Linked DNA regions of Homo sapiens: region 2 is linked to region 1. A link means that fine-mapping ties the variant in region 1 to the expression of a gene that starts in the linked region. Tissue or cell type: skeletal muscle. Region 1 holds a variant in brackets; the other region holds the start of a gene. All regions are shown on one strand. Distances are between the middles of the regions.

Region 1 (8,103 bases):
TAGAAAGACCTAAACCAGCAAACAAATGGGAGAAAAACAACTTAGAGAAAACAGAGCCCATACAGGAAACAAGAAAACATCAAAAAGCAACTATCTAAAAATTACTAGATGATGTTACAACTACGAAACAAGAGCAAAAATCAAAAAAGGGGTTTTCAAATTTAAAATGATAGCAACATTTTAAAACAAATTACTAGAAAATTAAAAGATAAATACTTTCTCAGAAAGTATAACAAAACAAGACAAAGAGGTGGAAAATAGAAAATTATTTAAAAATTGGAGAATCAATCTAAGAAAAATGTAGAAATGGAAATGCAGACGCAATGGCAGGGACCACTTGACTCTCGTCATGAGTGAAGGTGTCTTTGTGCTCCTAGGTCACTTTAATGAGTGTACAGATAATTGGCAGGGAGGAGGATCTTTGTAAAATGAAGATTCTAATTCAGCAGGTTGGCAGTAGCACCTGAGATTTTGCATTTCTGACACGCTCCTGAGTGACGCCTGTGCTGGGTCTGTGGACCACACTTGGAGTAGCAAGGTTCTAGTCTACGCCATCTCTACATCTTCCCCACTCCCATCTTAGATGGTTAAACCACTTGCAGAGAGTGAGGCCTGTGAAGCAGCAGAGTGGTTGATATTCCTTAGAGCTCTATGTATCCAAATCTGAACTATCTTTCCTCCAAAATCTTCTTCCCCTGATTATTCTCTTACTCAATTAATGACATCTCTTTCCTTCCAATTCCAATTTTCCAAGCAAGAAACCTCTGTTCTTTTTTTTTTTTTTTTTTTTTTGAGACAGAGTCTCCCTCTGTTGCCCAGGCTGGAGTGCAGTAGTGCATAGTGCAATCATGGTTCACTGCAGCTTCCGCCTCCCAGGTTCAAGTGATTCTCCTGCCTCAGCCTCCTGAGTAGCTGGGACTACAGGTGCCCGCCACCACGCCTAGCTAATTTTTGTATTTTTAGTAGAGACAGGGTTTCACCATGTTGGCCAGGCTGATCTTGAACTCCCGACCTCAAGTGATCTGCCTGCCTCGGCCTCCCAAAGTGTCAGGATTACAGACATGAGCCACTGCACCCGGCCAACTTCCCCCTCTAATAGTTCTAATGAAATATTAACTACCCAAGTATTTCTGTAGCCTGTTTTCTGAATATCTTTCTCACTGTCTCCTCATCTGACTGTCCATTGCCTTAAGGCTCCCCAGGTCACATCTCTTTAAGTGTACTCTAGGCGGGCCGATCATGAGGTCAGGAGTTCGAAACCACCCTGGCCAACATGGTGAAACCCCGTCTCTAATAATAATACAAAAATTAGCCGGGTGTGGTGGTGTGTGCCTGCAATCCCAGCTACTCAGGAGGTGGAGGCAGGAGAATTGCCTGAACCCAGGAGGCAGAGGTTGCAGTAAGCCGAGATCACGCCACTGCACTCCAGCCTGGGTGACAGAGTGAGACTCCATCTGCGGGGGGAAACATGTACTCTAACCTCCTTACCAACTCTGGGTCTCAGACATGGCTCCACAGGGTTGCTTGTAAAATGCAAACATGACCATGTTAATCTCTTCCCTAAGAGACTCTCATAATTCTGCAGTATTAAAAGTAAATAAAATCTAAGCTCATTAAAATGATATTTCAAAGTCCTTCTTGATTTGGCTTCCTGTTCATTTTTAAAACTTCATCTCCCACATATAGACACTGCTGTAGCCCTGCTGAGCTACTTTCTACTGAAAAGCTTTGTATACACCATTACTCTGCCTGAAACTCCTCACTCTACTATTCTACCTGGGAACTACTCAGATGGACTCCTGGGAAGCCTGCATTCCCCTTCCAGGCAGAGTTAATTCTCTCCTCCATTGTTCTCCAATAAAGGTCTCTCTCTCTCTCTCTCTCTCTCTCTCTCCCTCCCCCTCCCCCAACCTCTGTTTTTGTCCTTAGCCATATTCTGATTACCATGACCCCTTCTTAACCTTAAATTCCCCTCATATGAAATTCTAGTATACTGGGATTAACTTTCATGTATGTTTTTGATGACCACAGGAATTTTTATTTGTGAAGTCTGTGGGAATTATTTAAAGGAGGAGCAAAGAACTGAGCATTCAGAATATAAAGGGAGGAGAAGTGAATGTCACAGAAGGAGAAAAGGTTGCACAGAGATATCTTGAAAAACATAAAAAACAGGAGAAAGGAGTAGTTCATTCTGATTCTTACAACCACCTTCAGGTGGTTTTGGAAGGAGGGAGGGAGGGAGAGAAGGGAGCTAAGACTTCAGTGAGAAAGGCTGTGGAGCCAGGATGAGGAAGAAAGAGAAAGGTGAGACCATGCGACAGGACCGGAGCAGAAGTCAGCAGGTCATGAATTATGGATGAGCAGTACACTGAACATTTGGATACCACCCTCATTCCATGTACCATGTATGGTATCAGCAACAATGCAAAATACATTTGCATGTGTCTTGCTGAAGAAGTCAAAGAGAGTAAAGGCTGATGAGTGGAAATCAACAGTACAGCAGACACCATTATAAACTTAAAGTCTACAACATGCCATTAATGTTATCAGTGTTCTGACCTAAGGGTTTTATTTATTTTTTATTATTTTATTTTATTTTTATTTTTTGAGACAGAGTCTCACTCTGTCACCCAGGCTGGAGGGCAGTGGCATGATCTCAGCTCACTGCAAGCTCCGCTTCCCGGGTTCAAGCCATTCTCCTGCCTCAGCCTCCTGAGTAGCTGGTACTACAGGCGCCCACCACCACGCCCAGCTGATTTTTTGTATTTTTAGTACAGACGGGGTTTCACCGTGTTAGCCAGGATGGTCTCCATCTCCTGACCTCGTGATCCACCCGCCTCGGCCTCCCAAAGTGCTGGGATTACAGGTTTGAGCCACCGCGCCGGGCCCTAAGGGTTTTATTTTAATGAATGCGTACAAATGTGCATAAGGGTTCCTTAGGTAAACTCTCCAACTAGGTGCCCTCCTCCAAACACTGAGCAGCCCCCAGAGCAGATCCTCCCTGTCCGAGGGCTCCATTGCTAGCACCCCATATAAAAGCTTCCTCACCCTGGTTACTCAGTTCCACTCAAGGATGATACCGTTTCTTTTGGATTGCCTGCTCTTCAAAACTCTTGGATTTAAATGGAATCTTGCTCTCCACCCACCAATGTGGAGTTGTTCTGTGCTTCCTGGAGTCACCTTGCCTTGTTCTTAGACATCAGTTACCTTTGCCTCACACCTTTAACTCCAGGTCAGCAATCGTCTTCCTCACTCAAAGTCCCCAATTCATCTCTCTGCTCTGAAATCCTCTTTTATAGGAGAAATGATCAGACACCCTTGCTTCTCCTTGTACCCAAGATTATAAAGACAGCTGTGAATTCTTTTTGTCATTTTTTCTTTTAAGGAATCTAAACCCAAGAGAGGATACAGGAGGGTGAGGATTATTATATTTCTTTACATGATATTGATAACAGCTTATATTTAATGAACACTTATTTTGTGCCAGTAACCTAATGTGCTAAACATTTTACATAACTTCAGTGCTGTTATTATCTGTCTGCTGATGAAAAAACAAGGTTCCATGGTCAGTAAGTGATGGAGTCAGACTTTGAACGCACATAAATGAGCTTCAGGCCCGTGTTCTTAACCTTCAACCATGTGGTCTTCCCTAGACTGGAGGCTTCAGAGGGAAGAATCTGCAATTTACTACATTTCGTGTTCCTATCATCTTATAGATGGCTAATATGTAAAGGGCACATGCAGAATATTAGGGGAATGCATTCTAGATTAGGGAAGAGACAGGAGTTTTACTAGTCAATGAAAGATAGAATTTCAGGTCTATAGAATGTTTACCTTGGGAGAGGAGAAGAAGAGAGGTTATCTACCATATAGATCTGAAGGTCATAGATTCTAAAACTACTTTAATTCATCTTTCCTGAAGTATTTCTGAATAGAGTAAGTAAACAGAATGAGTGCCAATCCCTTGGAAACAGCAATTGATTTTTATATTGCTTTTCACAGAGTCAACATATGCAGACAGTCTGACTTGCCTATTGATCTGAGCTAGAGTTGAGTGAATGAGCTGGATGTAAAATTCCCTAACTCATCACTAAAAGTCAGTCAGACCTTGAACGACGGTTACTTTCTTTTTTTTTTCTAACATGGGTGACAATGAGCAATTGAATGCTTAGATTGGGAGCTGAGAGATTATCTTTACTTTGTTGAGTAATAAACACATTAATTAACAAAACAGGAAAATCCTGTCAAAGAGGAAGTCCTTATTAAGATCATGCTGGAGGCCTTTTCTATTGCACTGGAAAGATTAGCTGAGTTCAGTGGTCTTTAAGAAAGTATAATCATGAAAATAGTTACGTCCAGAGCTCAGAGAGTTTGAATTATCCTTTTGATTGGAAGATTCTAGCCCAGACTATTTTATCCTATTCTAAACTTGCCAAAAATTTCATATTGTCAAACTTTCCCTCCACCCCATGCCAAGTTGTTAAGCTTTCAAATAAACAAATTTATTATGATAAATTTCATCTCTATTGATGTAAAGGCTATTGGATATCTTTTCTTAGCATTTAGTTTAATACCAAATTAATATTTTGTATCATCCTGATATATGAAGACATTTACAAATATAGAAGAGAAATAATTTTAATCAGTTTTATTGTGCTGTAATTTACATCTGCCAAAGATTATCTATTTTAACTATACAGCTTTATGAGTTTTGACAAATTTATACAGTCATGCAACCACAATCACAATCATGATACAGAACATTTTCATCACCCTTAAATATTCCCTCATGCCTCCTTGCGATCAATCTCCTCCCCAACCCCTGGCCTCTGATTTGTTGTCTATCAATCAGTGTAGTTTTGGCTTTTTTAGATTTTCATATGGAATCATGTGATATAGAATCACTTAGGAAGTAGTCTTTTGTGTCTTATTGTTGTCCTTGAAAAATATTTTTAAGCAAGCAAAATGACTTGCCACAGGTTGGCAGAAAAATATTTGCAAAATAC[G/A]TATTTGAAAATTCTTGTATCTAGAATATATGAGCTCTTACAATCAATAAAAGACAAACAACAAAATTTTAAAAAATAGGCAAAATATCTAAACAGACAGTTCACCGAAGAAGATAAACAAATGGCAAATATACATAAAAAGATGCCCAACATCTTTGGTCATTAGGGAAATATAAATTAAAATTGTAATGAGATACCTATGTTGACACAAAGACCTGTTCACAAATGTTCATAACAGCTTTATTTATAATAGTCCCAAACTGGAAATAACTCAAGTGTTTATCAACTGATGAGTAGAGAAGCAAACTGTGGGATAGCCATATGATGAAATACTACTCAATAATAAAAGGGAACCAATTAATGATATACACTACAGCACAGATGAATTACAAAAGCATTATGTTGAGTGAAAGAAGCAGATACAAGAGACATATAGAAGAAATTGGGAAGGTTTAAAAAAAATTTTTAAAAGCAGTGACTATTTGAGTATCACAAGTAAAGTTTTTTTTTGTTTTGTTTTGTTTTTGAGACGGCATCTCGCTCTGTCCCCCAGGCTGGAGTGCAGTGGCATGATCTCAGCTCACTGCAAGCTCCGCCTCCCGGGTTCACGCCATTCTCCTGCCTCAGCCTCCCGAGTAGCTGGGACTACAGGCGCCCGCCACTAAGCCCGGCTAATTTTTTGTATTTGTAGTAGAGACGGGGTTTCACCACGTTAGCCAGGATGTTCTCGATCTCCTGACCTCGTGATCCGCCCGCCTCGGCCTCCCAAAGTGCTGGGATTACAGGCGTGAGCCACCGCGCCCGGCATAAGTAAAGAATTATAAGCTATGGTACATAATGATCCTCTCCTCAAAGAGCCTACATAAGTAAGACACAAAATAAGTAAAACACAAACAGGCTTGTCCTGAAAGAGCCTGCATGGGTATTAACCAATGCAATGGTAATTACCTAGAGATTTTTCTTAGAAGTGAAATTTTTACAGCTCTCCCTCAAATTCAGTTTTGTCTGTGTGCTCATGGAAAGTCTGAGTGCATCAATAGTTGATTTTACAATCGAAATGTAGAATATTTTCATCACTCTCAGTGGTTTCTGTAGTCCCAGCACAGAGTGAGTGGGGACATCAGTGCTCCATGTCCTCAAACCATATATCCAGCTGGAAGGGTGTATAGCGCAGTGTGGAAAGTGGGAATGGATTCCACAGCCGTCCATAGGTCCCACAGGGATGATAAAAAGTAAAAAGTACAAATTCTTTGTACATTCTGGATATTAACCCATTTTCATATATATATGATTTGCAAATATTTTCTTCCATTCTGGGAGTTGCTTTTTCACTCTGTTGATGTATTTTTTGATGCACAAACGTTTTTAATTTTGATGTATTCCAATTTATATCTTTTGGTTGTCTGTGTGTTTTTCTTTTTTTGCCCATGCTTTTGGTATCATACTCAAGAAATCATTGCCAAATCCAAAATCCAAGGTCATGAATTTTTGTCCTATTCTTCTGAGTTTTATGTTATAGTTTCAGATTTTTTGAACCATTGTGAGTTAATTTTATAGTTTTAGCTCTTAGATTTAGATCTTTGAACTTTTTTGAGTTAATTTTTGCATATGGTATGAGGTAAGCCTCCAACTTCTTTTGCATGTGGATATCTAGTTTTCCTAGCGCTGGGTAAAGGTGGAACTCCTCTGCAAGGGAGGTGAGGAAGGAGGGGAACAGAGAAAGGTGTAGATAATGACCAGTTTACTTTTGTTGAAACCTAGTTACTTCTTAAGCAAAGATTGTTTAAGTGGATGTTTTCAAAGCTGCTTGTTACTGTTTCAAAGGTCAAATAGATAATGATTAAGTTGCGCATCACTTAAGGTAGATTTTGACCTCTCACAAGTTGAAGAGTACTGAAGATCTAAGATCATTTACATCCCTCTGGAAGAAAAAATAACATAGCCTTCTAGGGCAAAGAAGAAAAAACTCAACAGTTACAGGATATTCCATGGTTCAAAGTACACCTGCCTGGTTTGCTGTTCTCCAAAATCCCATGCTCAGTTGGTTGGAGTGGCCTCACTCTTACCTGCCAACCTGGGAGGTTGATGATGAACATGTCTTTACCTTTTCTTTGGAGTTTGCTTACCTTATTAATATTTGCTGAAGTAAATGGCGAAGCTGGAGAACTTGAGCTGCAGAGACAAAAAAGAAGCATCAATCTCCAACAGTAAGTAAACACATGGGTCATTCCTGCTCAGGGACTAGGCTAATTCCTCACCAGTTTTCCCAAATAGCCAGATAAACAAAGGTGCAATTTTTCTTGAGGAAAATTATGTTGAGAAGCAAACAGGGAAAAACATTTAGACTGAGGTATGAAATTACTTTCCTATGCACAAATTATTATCTGTCATTTTGCAAATAATCTGTTTGCAATTGCCAGGAGGTATCTCTGAGAAATGTGCAGAGAAAAAAGTGGCAGATGAGCAGGGGCAGTTGGGTTGAGATGATCAAAAAGTGAAGATGTATTTGGCCTGTAGTTATTCAGTAAGAAACTTTGTTATTTTGGTTTAAAAATTGTACTTGCTAATTACTGATGCATTCTCTCGTTTGAATTATATAGGCCTCGAATGGCTACAGAGAGAGGAAATTTGGTGTTTCTTACGGGGTCTGCTCAAAACATTGAGTTTAGAACCGGATCCCTGGGAAAAATTAAATTAAATGATGAAGATCTCAGTGAGTGTTTACATCAGGTAATACACTGGAAATATATTGAAGTCATTTTGTATATCCATATACGGTGACTTAATTGAACAAGTCTAGATTAATCTGTACCTTGAATCTTTTTTAATTATTATTTTTTATTAATACATAATTTGATACATTCCTATAATGTGTAAAGTTCAAATCAGGGTAATTGGGATATCCATCACCTTAAATATTTACCTTTTCTTCATGCTAAGAACATATGAATTGTTCTCTTCTAGTTATTTTGAAATGTACAATAGATTAATGTTAACTATAGTCACCCTACTGGTCTATCAAACACTAGGTCTTATTTCTTCTATCTAACTATATATTGTATTCATTAATCAACCTGTCTTCAGCCTCCCTCCCCCT
Region 2 (8,108 bases), 68 kb before region 1:
GATGTGCCCCTTAATTATTTCTGATATGCTTTATATGTGCCTTTATTTTCCAGGTGTTAATTAATGTGTTTTTTTTTTAAAGAAACGCATTTTCTGCTTTTAGAGAAAATGTAGTAAATATACTAACATTCCAGTTTTGATATTTGCTTGCTTTTTTAAAAGTATGTCTAGTTTCTCTAATTAAAATATAAATAGTATTGTACATATCATTGAGGATGACTTTATGGGAAATTATGGGACTAGAGAGTTTTTCTTCTCTCTTATGAGCCTTCGGGATTTGCTTTCGGAAAAAGTAATCAATATTTACTTTCATTCTGCTCACCTCACTTTTCTCCTCAGCTACTCCCTATTGTACCACCTCCACCAGCCCTCCCACTCTTCCACCAAATCATGTAATTTGTGCCAGTGATTGGAAGACATTTGCATACATAATCCCAGGGGGCCTAATATCTACAGATGCTTCCATGGAGATAGTTGTAAATTATGATTATGGAGAGAGTTTTCATTCTTGAAATAATTATCACGAGATAAGCCTCAGAGAGGAAATAATACATAAAGATGTGGCACATATGAGGTGACAATTGGGCTAGAATAACTGGAAGGATTGAATGACAAGTACAAGGGTGATCTGTATTTCAGAAGATGAGGGAGACCTAGGAGTTGCAATGTGTCAGGATATTTTAGGCTGGGAGTCTAGAAGGAAGGTTCCACTTGAAGTATAGGTCTTAAAGAAGTCTAGGAGATTTCTAGAGAAGGGAAAGAACAAAAGCAGAGAAGTGAACTGAAGGGCATGTTTGGGGAACACCAAGTAGTTTCATTTACAGCAGAGTTCAAGAAGAGAAAAAAGTTAAGGAAGAAAAGTAAGTTCAGGGCTATACCGTGAAGATCCTTAAGTATCAGAGTAAACAGTTTGTAATCAGCCTGTGTGGGGAAGGGGTTTGAGGCTCCTTCCTCTCAGGAGGTTGGTATTTTTCATTAACTCTGCCATGTGTCTGTACTGTCTCTCCCCTACAGGTAAGGTCTTTTGTCACATTTATTTTGATTTATAGCACGAATGCTGAAAATTCCAGATTTGTTTAATATATTGGTTTTTGGCTATATATAAATCACTGTGACTATATAGTTCCCTTTACATTTTATGTACTGATGTTTATTTCTGGTACTATATGTAATAAATATTTAAAAAGTTTGCTTCATGCATTATACATATGTCAGTGTGTACATGGTTTCTGTAAGCTGAGTTAGTTTAAGAGTACATTTGCTTAAAGCAGGTAACAAGTCTTCTTTCTACATATTTCAAATTCAATAAATAATTAACACGTTGCCAAATCAGGTCTCATTTTTTCTAATTTGAATTCAGCCATGAATTCATTTCTTGGAACTAAAACACCCTCAACAATCCATCTCTTTCTGTTCCCTTCTGCTTTATCTTACAGATGAGGAAACCAGGGTCATCTCAAAGTCACACAATCAGTTAACTGGCAACGCCAGGGCTAAAGCTGAGTTATCTGGTATCTTTCTACCATACACCTCTTCTTATCTGAAAGTGACTAACAAAAAGCAAAGCACGTGGCCAATGCACATGTACAATTTAAAAAGTTAATTTCATAGACCACATCAAAAGGAACCAGTGAATGTTATAATTTGGATGCAGTGGTTATACTTTTATTTGTTAACAGCATTACATTAGCAGGCATGCAACATTTCTAACAAATCAGTTATTGTTATTACAAGTGGTACCCCCAAGTTCCCCCTAACAAAAACCTGTGGCAGTGTTGGGAACAAAGAGAAAAACACTTCACAACGGGAACATTTTCTATCCTCCATATGGGTACATTATTTTTATTTATAATTGACTGTAAACACCGCTCCCCCCACAAAATTTCTAAGCTCCCCCCAACTGACTGATTGAACACCTCCACCAAGCGGATTCCAAAGAAACTTGAAAAACTAGTTCAGGCCATGCTGGGAAAGGGAAGTCAGACATGCCTCATTATACTTTCCTCTCTTTGGAGTTCAGGCACAACTGACCAGTATTATTATTAAAACAAGAGATCTTCATACCGACATAACAGACTCTTCTTAGCAATAAGATACCAAAATTCCAACATGACTCTAGTATAGCATCACATGAAAGATAGCAGGCCCTAAATCAAAGCATTTTACCCTAAAATAAATTTCTTTGACACTTTTTGAAATGGCCCTACACAGCCATCTCTTGTGGGGAAAATCTACATTCTATAGAGACTCCCTTTCCCTTTCCAGGTCTTTTCCTGATCCAAGAGATATTTAACTAAGAGTCTGGCATCTTTTTACACATGATAAGAGACATTTGCCAATTATTCTCTCTGAAGCCTGTTACGTATGAGACTTCGTCTACATAATAAGAACCTTGGTCTCCACCTTATCTTAACCCAGACACATTCCTTTCTATTGATTCCAGGTCTTTAGGTCACAACTTAACTCTTTCAACCAACTGCCAATCAGAAAATCTTTGAATCCACCTGTAACCTGGAATCCTTCCCCTTTTTGAGTTGTCCCATCTTTATGGACCAAACTAAGTACACCTTCCATATACCAGTTAATGTCCTTATGTCTCCCTAAAACCATATAATCCCAAGCTGTAGCCCAACCACCTTGGGTACATGTTGTCAGGACCCTGTGGGGTTGTGTCATGGGTCACGGTCCTCACCTTGTGCTCAGAATAAACCTCTTCAAACATTTTACGGAGTTTGGCTTTTTTCGTCAACATGAGCCTCTAACAGTTGGTTACTGGATCATCCTGAGGAATCAAGGCCATAGCACTTAAAGACCCATAAATAATCCTACATGATATTCACTGTGTATTCTATGTAGGTGTAATTTCCAAGCTAAAACATAATTAACCCCACTAATAGACACAACAAACATCCTCTGTATTATCAGCACGCACACAGGGCTTTCTCTGCTGCGAGTGGACTTGTGTCCTTACTTATAATTCTGGAATCTTCTCTAGGGGAGAGGCTGGTCTAATTTCTCTCTATTGACCCAGGGCAGGCAGGAAACAAGGCACACTGTGGAAAGAATGTTTGAATGTTCAGGCTTCTAAGTGACAGAAAAGCAGCTTGTCTGAAAAATGATTTTTTTCTGGCTTCTAACCAGTGTTAATTCACTTGGAAACCAAGGCAGTTTTCTCCCCTTTACTGAACTCTGGATTTCTTTTCCAATCAAGGCCCCTGACACCAAAGAAGGAAATGGAGCGTAAATCAGGCTACAGAGTGGCTGCCATTCATTCGGGAAGCCTTATTGTTTTCCGTCCTTTGTTCCCCTCTAGACCCTTGCCAATCCCCAGGCCGCGAGGCCCTCTGAAGCCCTGAGCCTGGAGCGGTAGGAGACGGGGGAACTGAAACGCCGCGGAACCAGAGGCTGAGGGAGCGGCGCGATGGAGGGAGGAGGAGCGACGGACCGGCAGGCCTAGCTCCGGGGCTGCGGCGGCTGAGGCGCGGGGATGGAGCCCCTGCGGGTGCTGGAGCTATACAGCGGCGTGGGCGGCATGCACCACGCGCTGAGAGGTGAGAGTCCATCTAGCACCCCTCTCTCTATTCGCTCACGGGGGCTGGTTGGAGCACCCGCGCCGGGAAGGGGCGGAGCGGCGAGACGCAAGGGGCGGACACTGTGGGGCGGACACTGTGGGGCGGCCCTCGGTTGTCCTGGAAACAGCTCCTGCGCGCCGCCGTGTCCACCCCTCCAGACGCTGACTCCCTTCTCCTGGCGCCGAGTCTGGCTCGAGGGGCCGCACATGGCGCCTCAAAGGGCCCAGTTGGGAGTCGGGATTCGCAAGGCAGTAAATCAACCTCAAAGGGTATCAAAGGGGCGAGACCCTCGCCTGGTGCCAAGCCCCCATTCTAAGTGTGCAGCCACCGAGAAGCATGGAGACTCGGTCCTTCATCCTGGGGGGCTTCCCAGCTGGGGAGGGAGGGAGTGTCAGGGGCTCCCCTGGTGAGAGATGGATCTTGGAAGGGATAATAGCTACAATTCAAGGTAGAAGTTTGCGAATGCTAAATAGGATGGTAGAGGAAGCTTGAAGAACTTGGACGTCTGATCGTTGGAAAGAAACGTGTCTTCTGTAGTTCTGCGTTTAGATGCCAGAGAACTGAGTTCCAGCTTGGTGGCAGTGTGACGTTGGGCTACTTCGTGAACAGTGATGAACCTGTTTCCTGGTTTTAAAAGAGAATGATTATTATAAGGATTAAAGTCTGTCAAGTGCTTGTTAGTGCCTGATACATTGTAACCACTCCAAATATTATACATTATTATCACTATTACTTTAAAACGACATCACGAGATATTATCAAGCAAACTATTACTTTTATGCACGTCTTTGATTTTGAGGTTTTTGATTTCTTTCATGCTGAGTTGGAACTGAAAGTTTTACTTTTGGTGATATTCACTCAAAATTATTTATTGAGCTCCTATTCTGTGCCAGATTTTGTGCTAGGAGCTGGGGATACAGAATGACAAACAGGCTTTGAAGGTGCATGTTTATTCTTAAATTACTAAGACAACCACCGAACTGAAACTTCCCTGCTTCCTTATTTAGGACCAAGAGTAACAAGAGTAACTGTAAGATACAGACAATATTTAATGGGTTTAGCGTATAAGTTTTTTGAGCAGATTTATTGAGTTTCAATTCTAGACTAGGTTAATGATCATTAAGTTTTTAGTACTTGTTTGCCGGCTATCTTTATTTCTCATTTTAAAACTTAGCAGCATCAAAGCAAAACTCTAGTACTATTTACTCTTTGTTAATTCTCTAAAGTGATATAATGTCCGCGTTTTCCCATATCTTGAAACTCCTTAATGAATTGCTTAGTACTTTATCATAAGCTGTAATTCAGCCATTCCTTAAGTGTCGAATATTTAGATCATTCTTCAGTTTTTTTGCAAGTACAGTGTGCTACAGTTACATTCTTGAGCATAATGCCGATTTTCTCTTTAAGCATGTTTACTAACTGTTGGAATTAATTCAACAGTAAGACTTAACTGTGTGCTAGTTACTAAGTGAAAAACAGAATTTTTAAGGCTTTTGAGAGAGAGGATAGCAAATTGCTTTTCAGAGATTTTTGAGTGCCTTAACTACATATTCATCAGGGATATGTATTATCAATTTTTAATCCTTGCTAATTTGTTAGGGGAAATTGTGTAATTTTAAGTGACAGTTTTGGGATTAATGAAAGAGTAAAATATTTTCTCTCCTATTAGCCAATGCAATGTGAATTTGTACACGTTTTTCTATTGCCAGTTCTACTGTTGTGAATCCAAGCTATTAAGTTCTGTAATTTAAATTATTAACATAGCTTCCCAGCTTCTCTCCTTACTTCCATTCTGCCTCCCTACTCCGTTTTCCTTCTAGCAGGCAGCATGATCATTTGCACAGTAAACCAGATCATGTTACTTCGTTGCTTAAATGGTTGCTTTTGAGATTGTAATCACAGTCCCATCTTAACAGGCTTGTGAGTTCTGGCTTCTGTCTTCTCTTCAATTTTATCTGCCACTCTCCCTTCAGCATCCCGCTTCACCGTCAACACCCAAAGCTGAAATTCTAATTAAACGATTCCCTGAATTCTTTCCTCAGCCTTTCTTGTCGAGGCTTACTGTTTTTCTTTCTCTCTACTCCTCAAACCCTCGAAGTTCTTCGATGTTCTGGCCTTTGCTTTTGCTGTTGCCTCATCCAGAGTGCTCCCTAACCCCAGACTTTTTCACTCTAGCTTCGGTTCACATTTCATGTCTTAGTTCATATATTGGCCTTCCCTGGCTGACCCTGTGATCCAAAGCAACTTTCCTGCCTCCCTGTACCTCTCTGCTCTCTCATCTTTTCGGTGGAAATCTGCATATTAGGGATATAGACTCTTAATCATATTGATGCAAATATTTTTCCACACTTGTTTGCCTTCCCATGTTCACTTATTTGATGTACTAAAGTTTAAAATTTACCTGTAATAAAATGCATTGCTCCTTTCCAGGTGGTTTTTAATATAATAATAAAGACTAATAACAGCAGCTAACTTTAGTGTTTATTAGGGATCTTTTAAATTCAGGTCCTTTTTTAAGTATGTAATAAACTAGTTAGCGGTAGAACTGGTATTTTAACCTAGGTCTACCTACCTGACCTTTTAACTATGCTATGTTGCCGTTGTTCTGGTTAGAACTACTAACTTCCTTGGATCTATACATTAAATAATATAATAAGCAGCACAAAAGGAATAATATTGAACTTCATTTTTGACTGATTTCTAGATAAGGTTCATAATGGAATTTTTTTATTGTGGTAAAACACAACATGAAATGTATCATTTAAACTATTTTTAAATGTATAGTTCAATGGCATTAAGTACATTCACAATGTTGTGCAACCATCACCCTTGTTCATTTCTAAAACTTTTTAATCATCTCAAACAGAGCTCTGTACCTGTTAAACAATAACTCCAAATTCCCTTTCCCCCCAGTCCCTGGTAACCTTGATTCTGCTTTGTCTTTATGAACTTGTCTACTCTGCGTACCACACATAAGTAGAATAATACATTTGTCCTTTTGTGTCTGGCTTATTTCACTTAGAATAATGTCTTCAAAGTTCATTTATTTTGTAGCCTGTATCAATATCTCAGTTCTTTTTGTGGTTGAATAATATTCCATTGTATAGCTGTACAATTTTGTGTATCCATTCATCTGTTGATAGACACTTGAGTTGTATCAATTACCTGCTGACCATTGTGAGTAGTGCTGCTTTGGATATTGGTATATAAGTATTGTTTGAGTCCTTACTTTTAAGTTTTGGGGTATAGACCTAGCAGTGGAATTGCTGGATCATATGATAATACTGTGTAACTCTTGAGGAACCACCAGCCTGTTTTCCGCAGCAGCGGCACAATTTTCCATTGCATGAGCACTCCGTTTCCTCTACCTCCATATTCTCCACTTGTTATTCCATTTTTTAAAAATAATAGCCATTCTGATGGATATGAAATCATATCCTATTGTGGTTTTGATTTGCATTTTCTTAATAACTAAAGATGTTGAGCATCTTTTCTTTTTCTTTCTTTTTTTTTTTGAGATGGAGTTTCGCTCTTCTTGCCCAGGCTGGAGTGCAGTGGCGCGATCTCAGTTCACTGCAACCTCCGTCTCCCGGGTTCAAGCGATCTTCCTGCCTCAGCCTCCCGAGCAGCTGGGATTACAAGTCCCTGCCACCATGCCTGGCTAATTTTTTGTATTTTTAGTAGAGATGGGGTTTCACCATGTTGGCCAGGCTGGTCTCGAACTCCTGACCTCAGGTGATCCACCCACCTTGGCCTCCCAAAGTGTTGGGATTACAGGTGTGAGCCACTGTGCCGGGTTGTTGAGGGTCTTTTCATGTGCCTGTTAGTCATTTGTTTTCTTCAATACAGAGAAGTGTCTGTTCAAGGCCTTTGCCCATTTTGGAATTTTCTTTTTGTTATTGAGTTGTAGGCTTTATATATTCTGGATCTTAATGTCTTATTGGATATATGATTTGCAAATATTTTTCCCCACATTACTGAATTTTCAGTTATAAAAAGTATATTTAATTTCTTTAGCAACATGATAGATTTGCCTCAAACCCAGTGAACATTTAAAAAATATGTCAATAAAAGTTTTTCATCCTTATCAGCATATCCAGTATGCTGTTGCATTTTTACAGTCACTACATAGATGCTTCTGTATTTTCTAAATTTCATTTAACTTTATTTATATCTATTTTCCCATGTATTTACATGGCTTAAATGTAACATTCTTTGCTGTTCCTTTCTGTTCCTGTACAGCCTCTAGCACAGTACCACACTCTTTCTAGCTTACTATTGAGGTTACTATTGAATTGATAATCCTTCTGCTATCGTTTTATCAAATGATGAAGGTTTATTTAGCCCAGATTCTTTTTTTGTATTATATGTAGTTCTTAGTTGCAACCCACAGAATCCACTCTAGCTAACATAATCAGGAAAAAAAAAATTAAAAACATTTGGAAACTCACAGAATCTCCAGGACACCCAACAAACAGGTTAGGTGAACAGGAGCACTGCCCACACTATAGTGTGGGTATGGCCACAGTGAAGCTT

What was found. PIP is the estimated chance that this variant, and not a neighbour inherited with it, causes the effect.
Region 2: TRDMT1 starts here. The variant in region 1 is fine-mapped to the expression of TRDMT1 in skeletal muscle (GTEx, PIP above 0.99).

What each region holds. Positions count from the first base shown.
Region 1 is chr10:17,128,754-17,136,856 of GRCh38, reverse strand. It overlaps CUBN (cubilin), which reads left to right and starts at 7,046. Exons shown (of 67, transcript NM_001081.4): 1 at 7,046-7,213; 2 at 7,607-7,736. The coding sequence starts at 7,092. The variant G/A (reference allele first, on the strand shown) is at 5,007.
Region 2 is chr10:17,197,014-17,205,121 of GRCh38, reverse strand. TRDMT1 (tRNA aspartic acid methyltransferase 1) reads left to right here and starts at 3,450. Exons shown (of 11, transcript NM_004412.7): 1 at 3,450-3,551. The coding sequence starts at 3,488. RefSeq lists a silencer at 3,753-3,812.